Linked DNA regions of Homo sapiens. The protein of the gene in region 3 interacts with the protein of the main gene of each other region in a pairwise test. Each region holds a gene or a part of one and is shown on either strand. Other genes may lie near its edges.

Region 1 (3,945 bases), on a different chromosome or scaffold from region 3:
TTATTTAAGAGTGCTAAACATTAATGTGATACTAAAAATCACATATGAACCAATATGAACTTTGCCTTAACATTTTTTTATTAACCATTCAAGTATGAGCGAGTTCATGTTACAGAAATACATTATAGGAGAACAGGCTGTTCAAGGAGGGCTAGGCAACAGTATCAATGCCATGGAGTCAACACCAAAAGAAAATTAATGTCTTAGAATAATACTGAACCTTTCATTCCCAAATGTAGACTTTTTTCAGGTATATCATCTAGTCTCTCTTCTCATTAAGTTTCATGTTTCAAGTTACATCCAAGGTATCTATTCTCACTGAGCTTCTCAACAGAGCCCAAATACTTTAATAGCTATACAAACACAGAATTTGTTGTACATCACAGCAATTTATCCCAAATAGGTGAAGGAAAATTCACCTAGGAAAACACTAGAGAGGAGGAAAAGAATAGGGACTGATAGTACCAAGTATACTGTAAGTCAGGAAAGGCTCATGGAGAACTTTTAAAGTTTTTTTTTGTTTTTGGTTTTTAACTAGAATGACATGGTGTGGCAGAATTGTAATCTTGGTGTTCCAGAGATATATGAAGGAGTCTCACTGAAGAGATAGGTTGCCAGAGTGAACCCCAACTCAACAGATAGTCAAAAGAAGGCACACAGAACAGCATATACAAAGGCATGAAGAAGAAACTACTGGTTACTCAAGCATCTCCAGTACTTTATCACAGCTGGCACAAAGGAGATATAAGGAAAAGTGCAAGGTGAGGTAAAAAAGGTAAGGTCTTACAACTATGTGTGGCATGCTAAGGACTTTTATCCTGAAGTCAATGGGAAGGATCATAAACAGGAAAGTAACACAGAAAGATATGAGAAAGATCAATCCACAAGATACACTGGGGAGAGAAGATACTGAACACAGAAGAGCTAGGTACACTATTATACTTGTTCAGGCAACAAAGATAAGGGTCTAAACTAGGGGCAGAGGAAGTAAGGTTGGTAACAGGTACAAACATGAGGGTTCTTCAGATAACTAATACAAAGAAGGGTGAAGGAGGGGAAGAGAAGGGAGTCAAGGATAGAATCTTAAACTTGGACAATCAGATAGTGCCACTTAGCACTGGAGGTTCCAGAGACAGAAGCAAGTCTGGTAGAGCTAACTGAATTTTGCAGGTGAGAAAATATATATTAGCCCTGGTATCAGAAACTAAAGCATAAAGCTTAAGTGTTAAGCCCAAAGATACGGATTATCATTTTTTGGTAAAACCAACCAACTGGCTCCTTGCTGATAAGAAGGAAACTTTGCAAGAGTAAAAAGATAAAAAGGCAAATAAATCTAATAGTAAAGTTCATCAAAAATTTGCAAGGTTTTAAAGTATAGAAATAGCAATTTCTGTGATATAGTCGATATTTCTTCAATATTTTCCCCATTCACTAACTTTCAGGCGTGGTTTGTACATGTCAAGTCTTAGACTCCCTTCGGTGGAGTACAGCACAGTAAGCAAGAGTTCTAGCTTTAGCATCAAGCTTTATTTGTTTGTTTTTGAGACAGAGTTTCACTCTGTCGCCCAGACTTGAGTGCAGTGGCATGACCACAGCTCATTGTAACCTCTGCCTCCCCGGTTCAAGTGATTCTCTCGCCTCAGCCTCCCTTGTAGCTGGGATTACAGGCATGAGCCACCAGGACCGGCTAATTTTTGTATTTTTTTTTTTTTTTTGAGACGGAGTTTCGCTCTGTCGCCCAGGCTGGAGTGCAGTGGTGCGATCTTGACTCACTGCAAGCTCCGCCTCCCGGGTTCACGCCATTCTCCTGCCTCAGCCTCCCGTGTAGCTGGGACTACAGGCACGCGCCACCATGCCCGGCTAATTTTTGTATTTTTAGTAGAGACGGGGTTTCACCATGTTGGCCAGGCTGGTCTCGAACTCCTGACCTCGGGTGATCCACCTGCCTCGGCCTCCCAAAGTGCTGGGATTACAGGCGTTAGCCATTGCGCCCAGCCGCTTAGCATAAAGCTTTGATATATTGTAAGTCCAGGCTTTGCCACTTAACACCCGATGGAAGACTTAAGGCCACTTACTTAAGGGTTGTAGGCCTCAAGTTGCCTCAGCAGTAAATGGGGATAATAATAGTACTTACTTGATATAGGACTGTTGTGAAGATTAAATAGATAATCTATATAAAGTACTTAGCACTGATATACTGTAAACAATAAATGTTAAGGTTTTTAAAATAATTAATTACTGTTACTAATGAAAATGTCACACCCTTGAGGTATACAGCAGCAAGAAAATGAGTTGACCTGGATTGCAGTTACCTGAGCATTTGTTTTGTAATTATTCATTAAACAGAACATTTCTGTTTTGCACACTTTTCTATAAGTTATCTTTGAAAACAGGAAAAGTTTTTAAGAATCAATGCCTTACATGAAAAGGTCTAGCATTAAAATGCACATTCCAGGACCGGGCATGGTGACTCATGCCCCTAATCCCAACACTTTTAGAGGCCAAGGCAGGAGGATAACTTGAGCTAGCAGTTTGAAACCAGCCTGGGCAACATGGCAAAACCCCGTCTCTACAAAAAACACAAAAATTAGCCAGGTGTGGTGGCATGTGCCTGTAGTCCCAGCTACTCAAGAGGCTGAGATGGAAGGACGGCTTGAGCCTGGGAGGAGGCGAAGGTTATAGTGAGCCGAGATTGGGCCACTGCACTCCACCCTTGGCGACAGAGCCAGACCCTCTTTTTTTTTTTTTTTTTTTTTAAAAAAAAAAAGCACATTCCAGAACAAATAAAAGGAAATGTTTCCCTTTCAATATGTACTTCCTAGTTTTTGCTACAAAATGCATCCCCTACCCAAGCTCCAAATTTCTATCAGTGATGATAATTACTCCCTCCCTTCCTCCATTTATAAACCTCAGAATAACCTTTACTCCCTTTCTCTTCAGTGATCTTTATAAAGAGAATTTGAAGGAGGAGGAAGAGGGAGGAAGAACAGCATCATCAAATCCTCATTCCAGGTTGTAGCCATTCCCAGTCTCAATTTTTTGGAAAACTCTTCTTTGCAGATCAGACAACAGCGCTATTTCTCCAAAATGAATTCTAGGTATTACTGCCCTGTCACCCTTTCCATTGCTCTAATCATGTTACATCTCCTCTTTGCTCTGGAATAAATTCCTTCACATCTCCCTATTAAGAAAAAGCTTCCAAGCAACTCTTTGCCACAAGATATTCTTGCATCAACACAGGCCACCTGGAAGTCTCCTCTCTTTAATATAATCACTCTTCTTTTTTACCTGGATATTTATTCACCAGTTAACATGCCCCTTTTAAGTTTGGTACATATTTCCTATAAGATTCACTAACCTCATTTTTTTTTTCCTCTCCAAAGATCTCTTAAAGTCTCTCTCGATTGAATGACAAAGAAATTTTCTTCCTCAACCCTCTCTCTACTCAAATCCCCTGGCATAACTCTATCCTTTTATTTTCTTTAACAAGTATGGATCTTATTCTTGCACCTAACATCTTGTGTATCAGCTGCTTCTATAATTTATAACATGTTTTAGTTTTTGTCTATCCTATATGTGAAAAAATAGGCATCATAGCTTATCAAAGTGCATCTCACTGTTTTGGAACAGCCTGATAACCACAACTACTCAGTTACAGAGCTAAGTTGTACTGTTTCTAATGGACAAGACTAAGCATGGTTATCTACTCTTAGATATGCCTAAATCCCCAATAAAGGCCCTTCATCAGATTTGACCCCAGTTTACCCTTTAGTCTCTCTCTCTCCTACATTTCTCTCAGGACTCTTCAATTACTGCTCCCTCTAGTCTGGAATGCCCCTTTCTTCCACCAGCCTTCTCCCGCCCTTTGCCTGGCCACCTTTCTTTCATCCTTCACAATCAGCTCACTCCCATTCATCCATTAGAAATCAACCAGAGTATCTTCCC
Region 2 (3,945 bases), on a different chromosome or scaffold from region 3:
GGTTTCACGCTCCTATGAGAATCTAATGCTGCCACTAATCTGACAGAAGGTGGAGCTCAGGCAGTAATGCGACCCATGGGGAGCAGCTATAAATACAGATGAAGGTTTGCTCACTTGCCCACCTCTCACCTCCTGCTGTGCGGCCCGTTTCCTCACAGGCCACGGACTGGTACTGGTCGGTGGTCCTGGGGTTGGGGGCCCCTGCTCTTACACATGTGCAATTATGCATTTATAGGTTATCCTTCCTTCCTTCCTTCCTTCCTTCCTTCCTTCCTTCCTTCCTTCCTTCCTTCCTTCCTTCCTTCCTTTTCTTTCTTTTTTAATTTTTAGATGGAGTCTCGCTCTGTTGCCCAGGCTGGAGTGCAATGGCGCGAACTTGGCTCACTGCAACCTCCGCCTCCTGGGTTCAAGCGATTCTCCTGCCTCAGTCTCCTGAGTAGCTGGGATTACAGGCACGCGCAACCACGCCTGACTAATTTTTGTATTTTTAGTAGAGTCGGGGTTTCGCTATGTTGGCCAGGCTGGTCTCAAACTCCTGACCTCAAGTGATCCGCCTGCCGCGGTCTCCCAAAGTGCTGGGATTGCAGGCGTGAGCCACCGTGCCAGGAGGTTATTATTTCTTTAATGTCGGTCTACCCTATCTGACTATAAACTTCATGTGTGCAGGGCCTATGTCTGTTTTGTTAATCTTTGTTTTCCCTAGCACCTAACACAGTGGCTCCCTTTTAGTAGTCAGCCAATAAGTTTATTGAATGCATGCATGCATGAATAAATACATGACGTTGAATAAATTACACAATTTACTGAGCTAGAAAGCACTAGGAAAAGAACAGCTTTGGGAAGGAAGATCTTGAGTTTAATTTGGATATGCTGAGTTTAGACCATGAGATTTCCTAGAAGTCTGTGTATTTCACAGCCTTCCAGAATGGGTCAAATCCTCTCTTTTGGTTTCTTTGTCATAATTTCCCATTTATATGTCTGTTTCTTCCACTAGATTGCCAGCTCAGTGTAGGTAAGAACAATGACTCATCACTTTATCTCCAATGGCCAGCTTGGCACATGGATGGGCTCAAGAAATGAATGAGTGTGTGAAGTAAGTGCCCCAGTTTACAAATTCCCAGAAAGGGTGAGAGAGGCAGACGATGATACTTCCTTATGTCTTCCTCCAGCTGTGTGTCTAATGCCTGGCACAAAGTAAATAATAAATATTTGTGGAATTGAACTGACTTTCCTCTAGCTGTAGTCTAGGTCTACACTTTGCTGTTTGGGCTGTAGAATGACCTTCCTTAGGAGTCTCGCTCTGAGGTTCCACGGCAATAATAAAGATCATTATCTCAAAATATGGAGGGCAGAGAGGTTGTCTAGTTTGAGAAAACCTGAAGTAAATCTCCTTTCTGGTAGTGGTGGAATAAAAACATTTTGTAAAACGAAACACCTTGCCTAAGCTATTGTAGCAGTGCCACTTTTTATACTTACATTTGATCTACTTATCACGAGTAGTCAAGAATGAAAATAACTCCAACTGTGGTTTCTATGAGAGATGTGAATGTTTATGGAATAACAAATACTGAATACAGATAGTTAAAGTAGTGTAGACTTTAGTACAACTGTCATTAATTGCAAATGGTGGGGAATCATCTAATGAAAAAGAGAGGCACAAGAAATCTTAGGGTAATTAATGTTTGAAAAATATATCTTGTAAGAGGTTATTTATGTAGAAAGGCACGATTATGTTATTGTGTGTGTCTGGAGTGTTTTGAATGAGATGTTTACAACAAGATAGAATGTAAATGAGTAGAATTAGGTAACCATAACTTGGTTGCAAGAATACCCTGCCACATACATGATAAAGAGGTAGAGGCTGTAGTTTTACATAGCATGTTATCAAATTGTTTCTAATTTTCTGTCCATGTATCGGTGCTTCCCATTACTCTGCCAGGAGAGCAGAGACTGTGACTTATTCACGTCCTATTCCCAGGGCCTTCAAGGAGTAAATGCTCAAAAGTGATAGAATGAATAAATCAAATGTGTTATTCAAGCTGTTGACAGTGATTGTATCTATATTGTGGTGTAATATTTTCCTTGTTTTGCTTATCTGTATTTTCAAATGTTTCTACAATGGTTTCAGGATAAATGAATGAATGAATGAGTGAATACTTTTGTAATTACAATAAAAAAGGCTTACAGACTTCTATCACTTATTCGTAGATTTCTCTAGAGATTTCACGTGCATGTAGTTTGAATTGTACACACATATTACATATATATGCACTACATATATACATACGTAATTTATGCACAAAATATATTTTTATGAATAAAATATTAACAATAATATAATATATTTAAAATACAATTTTTTAAAATCAGCAAATATTAAACAAGGAACTCTGTTCTGCTATGGTCTCTACGTGGTCCCAGGTGACTCTGGTGGCCACCCAGAATCCTACCTTGAGGAAGGTCAGGCAATCCTGGTTCTCACTCTTGTCCTTGCCTCGTAGGTCGAAGTTGTAGAGGGCCCTGCAGAGCGGGGGCGGCTGGGGCAGCTGCTTGATGACTTCCACGGAGCTGGCTGGGAAGTTCCCGCTGATGCCATTGATTTCCCCCTGGTACCAATTCTCATCAAGCTGTCTCCGGAGAAGGATGATATCTCCCTTATTAAACCTTAGGTCACCGGGATTCTGCCCTCTGTAGTTGCATAAGGCCTTTGCTCGAGGCACCTGCAATGGCACAGACCAATAAGATATGTACTTAGCTTAGAGTCTAGAGGAACAGAAGATACAAGCATTCCCCCTTTTATTGTACTTTGCTTTAACATGCTTTGCAAATACTGAGTTTTTTACAAATCAAAGGTTTATGGCAACCTGTGTTAAATAGGTCTATCAGCGCCATTCTTCCAACACCATGTGCTCACTTTGTGTCTCTGTGTCACATTCTGGTAACTGTTATTAACTTTAAATATTTTAAACTTTCATTATTATTATATCTGCTATGGTGATCTGTAATCAGTGATCTTTGAGGTTACTATTGTAATGTCTCGGGGGGCGCCACAAACTTTGCCCATACAAGACAGCAAACTTCGTCGATAAATGTTTGTGTTCTGACTGCTCCACAAACTGGTCATTTTCCCATCTCTCTCCCTCTCCTTGGGCCTCCCTATTCTCTGAGACACAAAAATATTAAAATGAGGCCAATTAATGACCCTACAATTGCCTACAAATTTTCAAGTGAAAGGAAGAGTTTCACATCTCTCACTTTAAATCAAAAGCTAGAAATGATTAATCTTAATGAGGAAGGCATGACTAAAGCTGAGATAGGCCAAAAGCTAGGCCTCTTGTGACAAACAGTCAAGCTGTGAATGCAAAAGAAAAGTTCATGAAGGAAATCAGAAGTGCTACTGCAGTGAATACATAAATGATAAGTAAGTGAATCAGCCTTATTGCCGATATGGAGAAAGTTTGACTGGTTTGTGTAGAAGATCAAACCAGACACAACAGACCCTCAAGCCAAAGCCTAATCAAGATCAAGATCCTAACTTTCTTTAATTCTATGAAGGCTGAGAGAGATGAGGAAGCTGCAGAAAAAAAGTTTGAAGCTGGCAGAGATAGTCTGAGGTTTAAGAAGAGAAGCTGTCTCTATAACATAAAAATGCAAGGTGAAGCAACAAGCCATCAATATTGAGGCAAGACCCACCACCAGCAAGAAGATTACAACTTGCTGAAGGCTCAGATCATCATTAAGGTTTTTTTTTTAGTAATAAAGTATTTTAAATTAAGTTAGATATATTGTTTTTTAGGCATAATGCTATTGCACACTTAATAGACTACAGCATAGTGTAAACACAACTTTTTTGTTTTCTTTTCTTTCTGAGATGGAGTCTTGCTCTGTTGCCAGGCTGGAGTCCAGTGGTGTGATCTCAGCTCACTGCAACCTCCACCTCCCGGG
Region 3 (3,945 bases):
TCTAATTCTGGACAAGAAATTTATTATCTTATTAAGTTTTCTTACTAGTAAAATTAGTATGATACCATACATATAATACCATAAATACAATAGCACAAATACCATATTTGTGGTATTGTAGGGACAGAAGAGGGTCAACTACTCAAAATTCCTTGCAAACTATTTAGGATGATTAGAGTATGAGGCATTTTAAAAATATCTCAAAAGGATAAAAATTCTAAATTACTTGTTTTAACATTGTTGATTATAATGGCTTCATTGCAACATACTTTATAATTATTATACTGTTATAAAATCTGTTGCTATGACATGCTAAATTCTAAAAGCCCAACAACTTAGTCAACATTTAGAAAAATGTTACATTTCAACAATATCCTTTATAGTATCATAATAAATTATGATATAAAAGCCTAAAAACTGCTTTTTCATATATATATAATTGTACCATTATTGTAGAAAATGTTCTGTTCCCAAATCTAAGAGATGTTCTGGCTTCCAAAATGTAGGAAACCAAAATTACATTCTTGGCACTAGACCTCATTTACCAATTATATATAATAAACTAAGGGTCAAATTTTAGATGATGTAGTTTGACATTTGGGATGCTTGTTTGGGAATATGAGGTGAAAATATTATATCACAATTTAATTTAGTACCTGCCATTACTTTCATTGTTAAGATTAATACTTAAAGTTTCTATCATTGCCTCACTTATCAGAATAAAAATGATAAAGTTGCCACAAGAAGGCAGCAACTTAGCAATGAAAAATTAATATAAGGAGAGCAAATGTATTTTTGGGCAAGGACAAATATGCTGTGTCAAGTCTTTGTGAACTTGCAGTATTCTTTTAAATGTTAAAATTAAATAAATTGATTTAACATTAAATAACAGATAACAAGTAGAACCAAGGTTTTAAATAAGTAATACATGGTCTGAATGAATAAATTTTAACTCTTAAGATTTTTTTTAAGTAATGATTTTAGCAGTAGCAACAACAAAGCTTAAATAATGCCTTCTGATGTTTTACTATTGGCAGATTTATCAAAACATACAAATTATTTGATAAATATATGTGTATAACATATATTAAAAAGTAAAAGTCTTATAAAATTATAAGAAGTTTTAGTTTTTATTTTGTAAAACTGTTTCTTATCACATCATTCTTTTCCAAGAATCATATGAAAATTCACTAACTTAAAAAGCATTTAATTGCATGTACCTTAAAATGATAAATAAAAAGTCAGGTAATATTTTAAGCTCTCAGAGTTTATCATAAAAATTACAATAATTTTATCAAATGGAAATAGAATTCCATTGCTTTGCTTCTGATGATGAAGAGAAACTCCTAAAATATTTTAATTCTAACTCAACTGTGAATTTTAACCAATAGCGTGTTCTAGCATTAAATGAATTTCAGATAATGCAGAAATTACTGAAACCTGTTTTCTGAAAATTTTAATGTAAAAGTACATTCTTTGTACAGTAAGCACTAAAATATTTGTTCACTTAATGACATCAATTTCTTATTAAACGTCGAGAAAAAGTACATAAATATCCAATACTACACTTACTGAATGAATATTTATTGAGCTTATTTATGTATCAAGAAACAAAGAGGAACTGAATATATGACTTTAAAAATACAAATAGAATATGAGTAACATTGGGCATCTTTTTACAAAGGAAAAAAAATTGAGTGTCATAGAAAGGCCTGCAATAAATCAGGTAAAAGGAGAAGGTTGTTTGAGGAAATGATTGATATTTAAGCTGCAAATTGAAGTTTAATAAGGCAGAAAAGCACAGCCAGACCCAGAGTGTACCAAGCACAGAAAGCAAGAAAAATGTTTGAACAGTGCAAGACCAAGAAGAGTCTGTGCAGTTATGGAATGTTAGGATTTGGGGAGAACATGGTATAAAAGGAAACTGGACAAACACGGACTGGTTCTGAAAAATAAGTATGAATATCAGAATCAGTTGAGTTGCTTGTAAAAACTGTAATATTGTGATTATTCCGAAGGATAAAACATTGGATCATTTTCTAAACATAGCTATTTACTCATTCTTCAACTGCCATGGCTTGATATTGTTGAAAAGATACTGACAATTGTAATCATTAACAACAACTGGAATGTAAGCTTTATGAAACCAGGACTGTGTCATTTTGCTCATAAGCCCAGCACCAGACACACACTGTATGTGTGCTCCATAAATAACTGTTAAGTGAAAGAGAAAGCAGATAATGACAGTCTCCAGGAAAAAGCCCTTCTGTATTTCAATGACAATGATTACACACAAAGCAAAATTAAGACAGCACTCTAAAAGAATCCAGTTACTAGACTTACCATAACATAACATGAAAAGGACTTCTCCGTACATTGGCTCTGAACTCTTACTGCTATTGCCAGAGCTGTTTTACATTTTATAGTAGTGAACACAGTGAGGCAGAGAGGATTTTTAATAAAATAACCTACAGATGAGTCCCAATTCTCCTTTTAGACTGATTGCCTCAATTTTTCTTTTTTATAACATAAGAAAACTCTTTCCTACAACCTAGTGTTATGAGGGAGAACTGAAATCATTTAGAGAAAATATTTATTAACTTCCAAATTCAACTCAAAAATGTCTAAAGTCATAAATTTATTTCCTAAAGAAGAAAACATCAACAGCCACTTCAGATACAAAATAGTGTATTTACTTTTTCCTCAAGTTGTACCAAGATGACAATCACTTTTTAAATGGACCTAGTCAATGGAGAAAACTCCCAAAAGAATGCACTATATGCCACTTGGCAGGCCAGTGAAGAGTCACCTAAAACCAATGTGAATGTTCCAGTAATTGATTTGCAAATATTCAGAAGGTAGCAGCTGGGTTCAACTACACTCCCTGTAATTGAGATATGAGAGCCATTGTCTAATGCCAGACACAACTATTTCCTTACATATGTATTGATGTTATACCTATTTTTAAGCTTTGCAGTATCCCTCAAGATTTGAATGTGTTTATCTTTCAGTCTTAAATTACATTGAATTTATTTGCTAGACTTATTTAGATGTCTGTTTTGTAATATCCAAATAAATCAGTCTCTTAAAGTAATTTTTTGTAATCAATACAAAAATAGATGACTATGGCTATAAAATAGTATCCTTTGAAAATTGCATAGTTTAGAACGTGAACACAGACTAAATCTCACTCTCTCAAGCCAACCTCCAAAGATCAAAAATGAGAAAAAAATAAAATCACTGGTAGCTGCAAACCTGTCAACACAATAAAGAGGCTTAGACTTATAGAAACTTGACGGATATGTAAGAGGTGCAATAAATGTCTGAGGGCAGCAGAGACTTCTCTGGAGACCATGTGGGAGCAGAGTCAGATGGGGATGGTGCAGAAGAGAAAACATGCGCTATGGTGGATGTCCTGTAAAGGTAGCCACATCACCTTAAGCAGGGAAATAACTGAGAACAGATCTCAGACCTGGAGAGCCAGAACACAAGCTACTATCAGAAATGTAATAAAGGAGATTAGAAAGTACAAGGGTCATTGTTTTCAGGTTTTTCAAGGTCATGGGTAGCACTCTAGATTGCAAGGGGTATCTTGGAAAGCAGGGCTGTCATTTAGAAACTTCCTGGAAAGGGACAGGAGGAAAGCAAGAAGTTGATATTAAGGGAATTATCAAAGAATCATAAGACAAATTGATTTTCATCCTCCTACCCAAAAGCTTGGATTTTTAAAAAGTGTCCCTTCACTGTATCGACAAAAGAGGGCATATTACAACTAAGAAATTAAGTACACAACTCGTAATTTTTATTATTCCACTTTCTCCCATAGAACCCACCTGTTACCTCTTATTCTTGCTATCCCTGGAAAATCCTACCCAACTGTTATGGACTGAATTGTGTACCCCCCAATATTTGTCTTTAGAAGTCTTATCCCCAGTGTGATAATAT
Region 4 (3,945 bases), on a different chromosome or scaffold from region 3:
CCACCTTCTGATAGGCAAAATGCCATTTTGCTTTTACTGATTGAATTTATTTTACTTCCAAGTAAGATTTGGTTAGGACAAAGGATTCAACCAAATAATATTAATTAAATATTATTTTAATTACTTATTATTAATAATAAACATCAAGAGGAAACTCACTGATTTAACCCCTAATTTTGCAGAGAGGAAAACCAACCCAGAGAGGGGAAAGACAGACTAGGGTGAACACGGGATTTGCCCTGCCTTGCGGCTTATTCTCTCCCACTCAAGGCCTCCCACTGCCCCACCCTGGAGGTGCCAGTTGCATTGCCATCTGTGGATGGAGTTGTGCCATGTGGCAGCTACCCGTTTTCCAGCATCCACTCTGCTCATTCACTTTCTAGGCCTTCCTCTCTCTGAGCCCTTCAATGACCACCCTTATTCCACAGGATAAAGTCTAAACTCAGCCTGTCCTTCAAGGCCCTCATGAGTGAGCTACACTCTCACTTATTTTTTTTTTTTTTTTTTTGAGAAGGAGACTCATTCTGTTACCCAGGCTGGAGTGCAGTGGTGCGATCTCGGCTCACTGTAACCTCCGCCTCCTGGGTTCAAGCAATTCTTCTGCCTCAGCCTCCTGAGTAGCTGGGACTATAGGCGTGCACCACCATGCTGGCTAATTTTTGTATCATTAGTAGAGACGGGGTTTGACCATATTGGCCAGGCTGGTCTTGAACTCCTTACCTCATGAACTGCCCGCCTTGGCCTCCCAAAGTGCTGGGATTACAGGCATGAGCCACTGCGCCCAGCTGCTCTCACTTTCCAAACATATTTCCTATGGACTCCATTCTGTTCTCCACTGGGATTGGCAAGCTTTATCTGGAAAGGGCCAGATAGCTTTGTAGCTCACATAAGGTTTCTGTTGCAAATTCTTAAAAAAAAAAAAAAAAAAAAAGCTTACAATTCTTTAAGCAAAAACAGGCTGGGAGCCAGGTCAGGCTTATGGGCTGTAGTTAGCTGACCCCTGCCCTGCAACCCTGTCCCATCTTGACCTGCTGGAATCCAATGTGTCTGATTTCTTCCTTTTGTGTTCTGACTCTGTCTCCTAGGCTGGGCTCCCAAGGCCCAGCTGGGCAGGGGCAGGGGTTTCCACTTTCCCTTATGAATGATTCCTCTGTGCCCCCTAGGTGCTGTCTCACTGCCACCATGCCGGAAGTGTAAGTAGTCTCACTGCCATCTGGGGCCCCAGGAAGGCAAGTCCCTTTGCCACAGACTTCAGCCCCGCAGTGGAGGCACCATGTTTTCAACCCCCAAAGCTTTTCCCTAAGAGACCAGGTCCTCAAACAGGGGCAGCACTTGATGGTTTCCCCTGTGCTGCCTGTGTCCTCCCAGCCATTGAGCAGAACTCACTCCCAGGTTGCCCTGGGAGTGCCTTTTTGGCTTGTGCCTCAGAGATTTCCTGTCTTGATCTATCACATGAATTGCATGTACCAGGCCACCACTTAACACTGGTGCAGTAGGTGAACAAAGCTTTGGGAATTTACCCACGCACCCGTGGATGGATGCTTTCACGTTGCTGGAACCCTACGCTAAGGCTTCCCTCCCCTTCCACCACTTGTCCCCAACTTACGATGCCCAGTACCTCCCAATAAGAATGCCCCGTAGTTCAAAGGGCTGTTGAATTTTTATTTTATTCTGCCGGAACCTCAAACCGCTCCCCTTGCCTGATGCCTGATGACTTTCTGGCTCACTGTTGTCACTGGCCCCCTCCTCCCCCAAGCTGGTCTGTGAGGTTCTGCGACTGCACATGTAATCCTCATTGTTCATACTCACTCTGTGTTCTGCTCTTTCCCCGTCCTTCCTGTGATGGATGCCTGAAGCGAGGTAAGTGATATTTGGGGTATCTCTGTCTTGGTTAACTCTAACGACTGGTAAAAGTGGGAAGGTGGGGTTGGCATCTGAGGAGAGGGAAGAGCCTGTGTTAAGGCCTGGTGGGAGTCCAGGGGGTGTAGGGTATTTAGTGGCTGAACAAATTCCCAGGAGATGGAAACGTCAGGTGAAGATTCTGGATGTGGGGCTTCCTAGTGTCCAGGGAGTTGCTGTGCCAGTGTACCATGTCACTGGAAGGACTGGTATTGCAGCAGGGTTGGGTGTGACTCTGCATCCTTGCTGAGCACAAGCTCTTCCTCACCCACTCTGAGAGCTGGTCCAGTCCTGGGGGGACCATCCTATTCCATGCAGAGCTGATCCTGTGCAAAGCTATATTGGAAGGGTAAGGGATAGTCATTGGGTTATTCCACCCTTGCCCAATGGCTGAACATTGATTGAGGAGCAAAGAGATGTCCTTAAATCCCTCAGGTGTTAGAAAACCCTGACACTGGCCATTCTATACACTCCAGACTTACCAGGCTACTGAGATCACAGCCTATGTACAGTCCAAGGATGGGGATGGCAGGGATAGGGATGTGGGCCCAGGGATGGAAACAGTGAGAATTAGCAGTATTGATGGAGGGGATATTTGGCACAGAGATTCTCAGTAAGAATTGAACATGTTACTTTTCAACATTCATATGAATTTTTAAGTTTTGCTGAGGCTCGTATTAAAGTGAGTCCTCACTGACTGATGGTCAAATGAGGTGGCCATCGGCTCACCAAGTGGTGGGGAAATAAGATCGCAGTCAAACATTTGCCATGTGTACATTACAGTGTGTAAACCATGGTAGTAATGCTTAGAGTCATAGGCTCTTTCTTTTGAAATTGCACTTATCTGAAATGTAACAAAAATCTTTAGGAGAGGAAAAGACAAACCAACCACTCTGAACAGTCAGAATAGAAGTTACACATTCCATTTGCTGAAACTCATCCATTGTCTCTCATGAGAACTTCCCTCTCAAAGCCTAATCACTTCTACTTGACACCCTGGAATAACATTTGAGAGCCATGCTCTGCCGGCTCACAGCACATTAAGTCTAGGTAGGATGCTTCCTGCTGGCAATGAGAAGTGACCGCCTATGGCCCAGAAGATACTCTAGTGCTCGAAAGGCATCACAGTCTCATTAGTTGGGGACCAAGCAGCCCTACTACTCACCTTTGCCAACCCTGAGGGACCACTGTCACAGGGCTAGGACTAGTAAGCAAGAACATGTTTAGGATTTTTGATAAGAAGATAAAACAGTGGTTTTATATCTTAGAAAGATTTGTATGGGTGGTGTTAACATTTTTAAAAGTTTTGAGGTCTACATAGATACGTTTCATTTATTTGGGAAATTCACAGCTTATTTATGCAGCATGACGGATCATCAAGGTATTGCTGTATTACTACCTGGAGTGTGAAAACACATAGCTTTTACGATTTTCAAAGGATTTGCACATCCATGATCTCATTTCATCTGCAATAACTCTGTGAACTAAGTAAGGGGGGGGGTCCTAATATCCTTATTTACAGATGAGGAAGGAGGTGCCTGTAGAAGCCATGTGGCCCTCATAGTATCTTACAAGATTTCAGCAGCAGCAGAATCAGAGTGGGAAGTTAAGGCTTCAGCCCCTAGGTCAAGGTAGCTGACTGCAGCCTTCTCTGAACTGCAGAGGTTAAATAACAAAGATGAGCTTTTAAGGCACCGTAGGGTGAGCAGAGGATTCCGGATAAAGATAGAGAACGCTGGCTGGCACTTGTCTTGTCCTAGACCAGAATTCCAGTTCTGCAGCCTCTGCCTCACCACCTGTCTCTCTCTCTTCTTGCCCACAGAGAAAACCCAAGATCACTGCCTCCCGCAAACTCTTGCTGAAGGTGAGGCTGGGGGCTGGCTGTGGGGGGATGCCCAGTGGGAGGCAGAGGGGCAGCAGAGCAGACTCTGAAGGGATGTGGAGGATTATGGCAAGGAGAAAGGAAGGAGGCCAGAGTGAGGATGATGAGGGGCAGGAGTCCAGCATTGCTGGAGCCAGTGCCAGGCTCAGGTGATCAGTAGGTGG

The links. Proteins that work in one complex are often made in the same cells at the same time.
Region 1: the proteins of CCDC102B (region 3) and KPNA3 interact in binary tests that used the Homo sapiens proteins (3 or more experiments, as listed by UniProt).
Region 2: the proteins of CCDC102B (region 3) and SH3RF2 interact in binary tests that used the Homo sapiens proteins (3 or more experiments, as listed by UniProt).
Region 4: the proteins of CCDC102B (region 3) and TNNI1 interact in binary tests that used the Homo sapiens proteins (3 or more experiments, as listed by UniProt).

Annotation. Positions count from the first base shown.
Region 1 is NC_000013.11:49,785,983-49,789,927, forward strand, and holds part of KPNA3 (importin subunit alpha-4), read right to left. Parts: intron 1-3,945. UniProt on the Homo sapiens protein: Functions in nuclear protein import as an adapter protein for nuclear receptor KPNB1. Binds specifically and directly to substrates containing either a simple or bipartite NLS motif.
Region 2 is NC_000005.10:145,998,833-146,002,777, reverse strand, and holds part of SH3RF2 (E3 ubiquitin-protein ligase SH3RF2), read right to left. Parts: intron 2,721-3,945; coding exon 2,451-2,720; intron 1-2,450. UniProt on the Homo sapiens protein: Has E3 ubiquitin-protein ligase activity. Acts as an anti-apoptotic regulator of the JNK pathway by ubiquitinating and promoting the degradation of SH3RF1, a scaffold protein that is required for pro-apoptotic JNK activation.
Region 3 is NC_000018.10:68,891,852-68,895,796, reverse strand, and holds part of CCDC102B (coiled-coil domain-containing protein 102B), read right to left. Parts: intron 1-3,945. UniProt on the Homo sapiens protein: During interphase, forms fibers at the proximal ends of centrioles to maintain centrosome cohesion. During mitosis, dissociates from the centrosome following phosphorylation to allow centrosome separation. Contributes to CROCC/rootletin filament formation.
Region 4 is NC_000001.11:201,415,031-201,418,975, reverse strand, and holds part of TNNI1 (troponin I, slow skeletal muscle), read left to right. Parts: intron 1-1,163; 5' UTR 1,164-1,182; coding exon 1,183-1,193; intron 1,194-1,856; coding exon 1,857-1,860; intron 1,861-3,721; coding exon 3,722-3,763; intron 3,764-3,945. UniProt on the Homo sapiens protein: Troponin I is the inhibitory subunit of troponin, the thin filament regulatory complex which confers calcium-sensitivity to striated muscle actomyosin ATPase activity.